Homo sapiens: one gene and its partner. The protein of the gene in region 1 interacts with the protein of each later gene in a biochemical or structural test. Each region holds a gene or a part of one and is shown in the gene's direction. Other genes may lie near its edges. The genes, in order: CSTF1 and TOLLIP.

Region 1 (4,527 bases):
TATAAACTAAATGTCAGGAAGTAAAAGAATTGTTAAACAGGCCGGGCATGGTGGCTCACACCTGTAATCCCAGCACTTTGGGAGGCCGAAGCAGGTGGATCACAAGGTCAGGAGATAAAGACCATCCTGGCCAACCTGGTGAAACCCTGTCTTTACTAAAAATACAAAAATTGGCTGGGTGTGGTGGTGTCCACCTGTAGTCCCAGCTACTTGGGAGGCTGAGGCGGGAGAATCACTCGAACCCAGGAGGCGGAGGTTGCAGTGAGCCGAGATCACGCCACTGCACTCCAGCCTGGCGACAGAGTGAGACTCTGTCTAAAAAAAAAAAAAAAAGATCACACACAAAAGAATTGTTAAATAAGTAATGGGGCTTCTAAACATGAGGCACTTTGCATCTAGTAAAAAACATGGAAAAATGTACTCAGCATAAAGTTGGTTAAAACTATAATAGAAAAATATAGTGGCAACAATTTTATATGTATTTTTAAAATGTGTTTTTTTATGCCTCAAAGTACATTAGGACAGTAACAGTATTGCTTCAGGTGATCTGGTGATCTCCTTTTTTTTTTTCCTGATGCAGTCTTGCTCTTGCTCTGTTGCCTGTTGCCCAGACTGGTCTTGAACTCCTGGGCTCAAGCAGCCCTCCTTCCTCAGCCTCCCAAAGTACTGGGATTACAGACGTGAGCCACTGTGCCTGGTTTGATTTTCTTTTTTGTACTTTTTTAGAGTTTCTGAAAGTGTACAAGGTGTATCACTGCAACAGGTTTAAAATGCTTTTACATTGAATGCTAGAACGTTCTGAGGGTCTAAGATGTGGACTTAGAAAGCTATCCCTCTTGCTCTCTGTGGCAGGCGCGGGTTTAAGTGGACGCCAGGTGCACCGGACACAGGCTGTGTTTAACCACACCGAGGACTATGTGTTGCTGCCCGACGAGAGGACGATCAGTCTTTGCTGCTGGGACTCGAGGACAGCCGAGCGGAGAAACCTGCTGTCGTTGGGGCACAACAATATTGTACGCTGCATAGTGCACTCCCCCACCAACCCCGGGTTCATGACGTGCAGCGATGACTTCAGAGCGCGGTTTTGGTACCGGAGATCGACCACTGACTGAGCCACCCTCTCCGTAGGGTTCTTTCTCGAGGACTCTACCCTCCTCCCCCACGTCCTGTCTCAGCTGCAGTCGTAAGTCCGTGCACCATCCTTGACGTTTTGCTGCCACCTCTGTCCACATTCTTCTTGGATTTGTATAAAAGAATCTTTTTTTACCTTGATGTAGAATCATGGTGGAAAAAGTTGGAAACACAGATCTGTGCAGTTCTACATTCACTGATTATTACAGTGTGATTTTCATCGGTTTTGTAAGTACAGGACTTGCCGTTTCTTTTGATCTCTTGATTGAAGGAGGATAGGGCATTAAAGTGCTTTTGACATGAGGAATTTTCATTTGGTTCTTCTGTCAACTTTCTTGCTTATTCTGCTGAACCCTCTGTGTATTTCCCTTCCAGGTATATTTGAACAGATAAGCAGGCATGCAGCTCTGAGACTCCTGAGTTTTATGCCATTATCAAAAGCATTTTCAAGAATCCCTCAATTCTATCCTGAAATGATGTTATTCTGATAATAAAGCTCAGATCTGCAACTTTATTGTTATATATTTTTCACTTCTGTAAAATTAATGGCCAGTTTTTCCTGACAATTTATAGGAACAGTATCTTTCAACATACTCCCTACATTATCCTTCAATATCTGCAATACTTGTCTTTAGTAACTGTATTTCTGGTAAGATTATGATTTCATGAGAAACAATTGAAAATATATCCGATCTAATTAAATTAGGTCAGCCTGCTATTGCTCTCAGGTGTTGCCTGTCTTCACGAATGATTAGTATCGATTGACCTCTTTCTTAGGTGGTTTTAAGTCTTCAGTTCTCGTCAGCATGAACTAACTTCTCATCATGGAGGCACATAGTAACTGCATTCTCAGAAGATTTATGCAGTTAACCAATTGATACAAGTTTTCTTTTTCTTGAATTTTTTTTTTTTTAATTGAGGCACAGTCTTGCTCTGTCACCCAGGTTGGAGTGCAGTGGCGTGATCTCAGCTCACTGCAAGCTCCGCCTCCTGGTTTCACACCATTTTCCTGCCTCAGCCTCCCAAGTAGCTGGGACTACAGGCACCCACCACCACGCCCGGCTAATTTTTTTTTTTTTTTTTTTTTTTTTTGTATTTTTAGTAGAGCCAGGGTTTCACCATGTTAGCCAGGATGGTCTCTATCTCCTGACCTCGTGATCCGCCTGCCTCAGCCTCCCAAAGTTTTGGGATTACAGGCGTGAGCCACCGCGCCCAGCCTTCCTGAAGCTTTTTAGAACATGACAGTACTTCTCTGGATTCAGCACTAGCAGAGTCAGAGAACTCTGAACTCCCCTTGTACAAACATAAACTTTGCTTTATATTTATCCCAAAAAACAAATACCTTATGATCTGCATAGGAGTACCTAGAAATATAATCTGGGATCATTTGATAAAAATAGTAAATAGATTGAAGTAAAAGTCATTGCTTTATATTATAGGAAGTTTTGTTTTGTTTTGTTTTGTTTGTTTTGTTTTTGAGACGGAGTTTCGCTCTTGTCCCCCAGGCTTTAGTGCAATGGCGCGATCTCGGCTCACCGCAGCCTCCGCCACCTGGGTTCAAACGATTCTCCTGCCTCAGGCTCCCGAGTAACTAGGATTACAGGCGTGCGCCACCATGCCCGGCTAATTTTGTATTTTTTTTAGTAGAGACGGGGTTTCTCCATGTTGGTCAGGCTGGTCTCGAACTCCCAACCTCAGGTAATCCGCCCGCCTCAGCCTCCCAAAGTGCTAGGATTACAGGCGTGAGCCACCACGCGCGGCCCCATCATACGAAGTTACTGAAGTTATTGCGTAAACATTCTGTTTTAGTCATCCTTGAGGATCGTTTTAACTCCTTGATCTGTAAAACTGTCTTAAGCATCTTAACATGTTACATCACAGGGTTTTAGCTCAGATTTCCAAAGAGCCATATTTTTTGATGCATATTTCCAGTTGAATTCCAGTGTGAATTTCCAGTTGTACTTTGCATTCTGATTCTTTGATATTTGAACTTGGCCATCTGTGGGTGCTACTCTCGTAAGACTAAAAGGCACCTACTAAATACGAACAAGGATAACCAGTTCTACCAAAAACATTACCAACCAAACCTCCCCTGTTCTTTTTTCAGACTTTCCTTTTGCTTTCAACCTCTTAAACTGTAAAGGAGAGATTTAATGTTTCCCTATTATTCTGCTTTGACTCACATACTAAAATGACCACATGGCACTCCATTGAATCTTTTCAGTTGTTCACGAATTAAAATAATGCCCATGTTTTACAGTTTTTCGAGTAGTCTCAGCAATGGATCTGTAGTTTCAGGACCTGTTTTTAAAAGATCAAGATACTTTTATGTGTTTCAGAAGTAGCTGTTTTTTCATTTTTTGTGGGTTTGTTTTTTTTGTGTTTGTTTGGTTGGTTGGTTTTTGGTTTTTTTGCTTTTTAAAGGTCACAGTGTTGTGAGCCTGGTGTAAATGCCAGGAATATTATATGGACTTAGTATCTGCATCTCGTTAATTGTACCACACAACACTCTGCCATTCAAATAATGAATATCTGGTCAGGATACGAACTTATACCCTCTGTGTGTTTTTTTTTTTTAAGATACGTGATTTCTGAAATAAACTTTATATACAATGATAAGCTAGTTTATTTTTTTTGGAACTTACTTTGAACATTTCCCACATTTGAACATCTGTTCTCAAACAGCAGTTATGACTTTGGTACTGTTCACCCTTTCTTTAGTGCTTTGTTCCAGAAGTCAGGTTTTTATAGCTGGATCACCTTTAGCTCTTTATCTTTGCTCCTCTGCTCTCTATGAATTTTTCTTTTTTTGAAACGAATTCTCACCCTGCCGCCCAGGCTGGAGTGCAATGGCGCGATCTCGGTTCACCGCAACCTCCGCCTCCCAGGTTCAAGCGATTCTCCTGCCTTAGCCCCCTGAGTAGCTGAGATTACAGGCGCGTGCCACCATGCCTGGCTAATTTTTTCTATCTTTAGGAGAGACAGGGTTTCGCCATGTTGGCCAGGCTGGTCTTGAACTCCTGACCTTCTGATCTGCCCACCTTGGCCTCCCAAAGTGCTGGGATTACAGACGTGAGCCACCGTGCCCGGCCGCTCTCTGTGAAGTTAAAGAACTTGAGTATAATTCAGTTTTTTGGCTTATTCAGAGAACGCTATCTTTGCTTACACTTTGGTTTTCCTTAGGAAGAGCAATGTGAGAGAGTCCAGTCTCAGCTCTGTTACTGACTTGGTAAGTAATAGGGCAAGTCATTTTTCTGGGATACAGCTTCCTTTTCTGCGATTAAAGGGCTTAATGAAAAAAATCTCCAGCATGCACTTCAACCTGTAAAGCTCTTTGTTTTCATGCCTGATGATACAAACAGACTTCAGGGAGGGAGGAAGCCATTGTTCCTAAGC
Region 2 (3,809 bases), on another chromosome or scaffold:
AGCATGACCCACCCCAGCCCCTCTGAATTAACCCATAGTGGGCCTTTACCCAGTTACTAGCACCTAGAGGAGCCCTGCTTTTGCAGGATGTCTTGACACAGTATTTATCATGTCCTCTTTCTGTTACACCTGTGGTGCCAGAGAGGCAGGAGGTTAAGCAGGGCGCTCGCTCAGCTTTCCAGCAGAAAGAGATGCTCCCCAGGGTCCGGGGGCAGGACTCTGGCTCGGGAGACCCTGACTGTGGTCTAGCCGTTGCCTCCCCCTAGTGATAAGGGGAGACGGCAAGATCCCATGGGCCGTGAAGGAGCAGAGGGGCCGCTAATGGGGTCCTGGGAGGGTTCTTTTGTCCTTGGGTAGAGGGAGCTTCAGGGGCCCGGGTGGGTAGGTGTGGAGAGGACGTGTGAAGCTAGCCAGCCCGACATCGTTCTGAGAGAATCATACCGTGTTTAGATCTTCAGGATAATGGTTCCCTGAATAGCCACTAAGGGATGCTTCAGCCCTGTGCAGTGCTTCCCTCACGTTTCAAAAAGGCCAGTATTTTGGAAAGATAACCTTTTTTCAATATAGTCTGCATATTATCAGAAAGCATGGGTGAGTACCTGCAAGGAGTACCATGTGGACCCCTGCGAGGGGTACCGTGGGGGCCCCTGCGAGGGGTACTGTGTGGACCCCTGTGAGGAGTATCATGGGGGCCCCTGCGAGGGGTACCGTGCGGGCCCCCGCGAGGAGTATCGAGGAGTACCGTGTGGACCCCTGCCTTCTGCAGTGAGATCTCGGGACGTTTGCGGGAGACTCCGCTGCAGCCACCGCGGTGCCGTCAGAGAGGCCTCCTTGGTAGAGGTGGGTGCGCTGTGCCGTGTCCAGGCTGCTCTGACTCCTTGTCCTGCTTCTGGAGGTGCTGGTTGGCCATGGAGTCCAGCTGGAGGCGGCCTGGCCCCTCCCTTCCTCCCTGAGAGGCCTGTTCCTGTCCAGGTCCCCTCACTCTTCACATCGTTGATAATTCCTGCCGAATCGGTGACTTCATTAGGGATGGCAGAGGGTAGTTTCTGAACTTTATCACTTCTTCGGTGTTTATTAACTGGGATTGTTTGTAAAGATTAGCTTTCCCCATCAACCGGTGTCGGCTGGCTGTCCTGAAACACAATTCGTGAAAGAAAGGCAAGTGAGATGCTTTTCCCTCATCTTCCCGTACCTCAAGGAGAGAGTTGCTTTTCTTTGTAGATGTGTGTGGGCTTTCTCTCCCCTGAGTGTTGTGAAGAGCCCGTGGATTTTCCTGCATCCTGTGTGTCTGAGCCAGTGGCACTTACCCGTCTCCGCTGGCTCTGGTGGGCTGCTCCTGGGAGGGCGTCCGTTCCTGCTGACTGCACCTGAGCCAGCGGGGAACGCACTCACCGCCTCCTCACGAGTCCTTTCTCTCTGGGTTCCTGTGAACCTTTGCGCTGGATTTTTTAGGCCGGGTTGTGAGTCTGTACAGGTGTGGAATTGCTGTGCTTGCCTGGAAATCACATCTTTTCACTGTGTGGGGACCCACGGGCCTCTTGGAAGATAAAGGCCTCTTGCCTTTGATTATTTTGTCTGATACTGGCATGGCCACCCCAGCTGTCTTTTAGAGAGTATTCACCTAGTACTTTTTCCTTCTATGATTTTACATTTTTCTGAAAACTTTTGTTTAAGACACGTGCACCATCGATAGCACGTAGCTGGATTTTTAAAAAGTCAAATCTAAGAAGACTAAGTCTTTTGATGGGAATGCGCTAGTTTCATCTTTCTAGTTAAGAGATGCCTAGATGGATACACAGATTTACAGATTTTTTACATGTTTTCTTTGGTGCTTTTATTTGTCCTACATTTTCTTATTTTTTTTCTCTCATTGCCTTTTGAATTTATTAAATGGAGTTTTAAAAAATTCAGTTGTTTTATCTCAAGTACATACACACTGTGCTGGGAAAGTACAGGGGCTCCCCTGGAAATGGTAACATGCACTTATCAGCTTCTGCCATGAGGGAGTCTCTGAGTGAACTCTGGCTCCGGAGGCTGCCCGGCTAAAGAATAAATAAAGAAGAAGTTAATCATTGTCTGTGCCACCTCCGGATCCACGCGGAGACCTCGGCCGCCCCGTCCTGGCGCGGGTGCTGCTGTGCCTTGTGTGGGTGCTACCTCCCCTTGGGGCTCCCGCAGGAATGTGTTACTTCTCTCGAGTCAGCGCTTGTTTAGATTTCCTTCTGTGTTTCTCTTTTCTTATCCCTTCTGGTGTCTCGGGCCTTCCATTTGGGGTCACTTTCCTTTAGCTTCAGGTTCATCTAGAATTTTCCTTGCTGGCAAACTTGATTTTTGCTTGTACATGCCTTTTCTCTGTGTCCTGACAGCTATTTTTGTGTGTGTGGAACTCCAGGTGGGCGGTACTCCAGGTGGACAGTACTCCCGGTGGACGGTCACTTGTCCTCAGTGCCTCGAAGGTGGGACCCCGCCCTCTCCTGGCTCCTGGAGTGGCTGCTGAGCAGCCCGGGAGTGGATGTCCCTTCCTCCGGCTTTCCTTCGTTTTTGGCCCTCTGTTTGCTGCCTTCTGAATACGCTGCTTCTGGCCTGCCTCCCAGTTCACTTGAGGTCTTTTTTTTTTTTTTTTTTTTTACATGGAGGCTCGCTCTGTAGCCCAGGCTGGAGTGCAGTGGCACAATCTCAACTCACTGCAACCTCTTCCTCCCAGGTTCAAGCGATTTTCCTGCCTCAGACTCCCGAGTAGCTGGGATTACAGGCGTCCACCACCACGCCCAGCTAATTTTTGTATTTTTAGTAGAGATGGGGTTTCACCATGTTGGCCAGGCTGTTCTCGAACTCCTGGTCTCAAGTGATCCGCCCACCTCAGCCTCCCAAAGTTTTGGGATTACAGGCGTGAGCCACTGCACCCGGCCCTAACCTCTGTTCATCTGGGCCTCTAACACTGTCCCTTGACCTGCCCGACAGGCCCCTGGTTAGGCCTGCTGTGCAAGTGTTTCCTGTCCCTGAGTCACTGTCTCCAGATCCTGCGGGCCCTGCCCTGGCACCGTGCTGGTGAGGCCTGCCTTGCTGCCCTGTGGGAAGTGCAGCGTGCCCCTGCCACCCGGCCTTGCCCTGTTTCTTTGCACAGCGCCTCCTGCCGTTAGCATACAGCATAACTCATGATGCTTCCCGTTTGTCTTCTTCCACTCACGTGTAAGCATCCCAGGAGCAGGGGTGCCCCAGCACCTCACCATGGAAGCCTCAGGCACACAGTGACACGCAGAGGCTGCCGCAGCGCGCGCCCTGTGCCCGGCGCCCAGGGCCTGCCACGTCACATGCCGTCCCTCTCTGGATCTCTGTCCGCCCTTGGCCTGCTGCTTGACTGGCTTTTGTTTCATCTGAATGAGAAGGGGTTTTCCGCCTCTGCCTTGCTTGACCGTCCCAGCACTTAGGATGCAAGGCTGCCTGCAGTGGAGTTCCTGGCAGAGACCCCATTTAAAGTCGCTTGTTCTGTAGTCAGCTTTTATAATCTATGCTTATTCTCATTCTGTCCTGTACTCTTCCCTTTCACCGCTCTTCAGCTTACACGGGTTCGTTTCAATACTGTCATCTCCCAGCTTCCCTTACACAAATTCTAGTGTTTGCTTTGAGACTTTAGCAGAGCCAGGGAACCTCCCGGCATGTTGGCTTTGAAGCGCCTGTTGTGTTTTGTATAATTAAAGGAAGAGGGGAGGGGGTGATAGGAAGAGGGAAGGAAAGCCCTGTCTGAGGAAGGCCCCGGAAGGGGAGACAAGGCACGGCGAATGAGTGCTCAGCGAGGGCTCCTGGGAGGG

Evidence for each region.
Region 2: the proteins of CSTF1 (region 1) and TOLLIP form a complex in vitro, tested with the Homo sapiens proteins (one study listed by BioGRID).

What each region holds. Positions count from the first base shown.
Region 1 is NC_000020.11:56,402,616-56,407,142, forward strand, and holds the end of CSTF1 (cleavage stimulation factor subunit 1), read left to right. Parts: intron 1-852; coding exon 853-1,112; 3' UTR 1,113-3,747; downstream 3,748-4,527. UniProt on the Homo sapiens protein: One of the multiple factors required for polyadenylation and 3'-end cleavage of mammalian pre-mRNAs. May be responsible for the interaction of CSTF with other factors to form a stable complex on the pre-mRNA.
Region 2 is NC_000011.10:1,302,854-1,306,662, reverse strand, and holds part of TOLLIP (toll-interacting protein), read left to right. Parts: intron 1-3,809. UniProt on the Homo sapiens protein: Component of the signaling pathway of IL-1 and Toll-like receptors. Inhibits cell activation by microbial products. Recruits IRAK1 to the IL-1 receptor complex. Inhibits IRAK1 phosphorylation and kinase activity.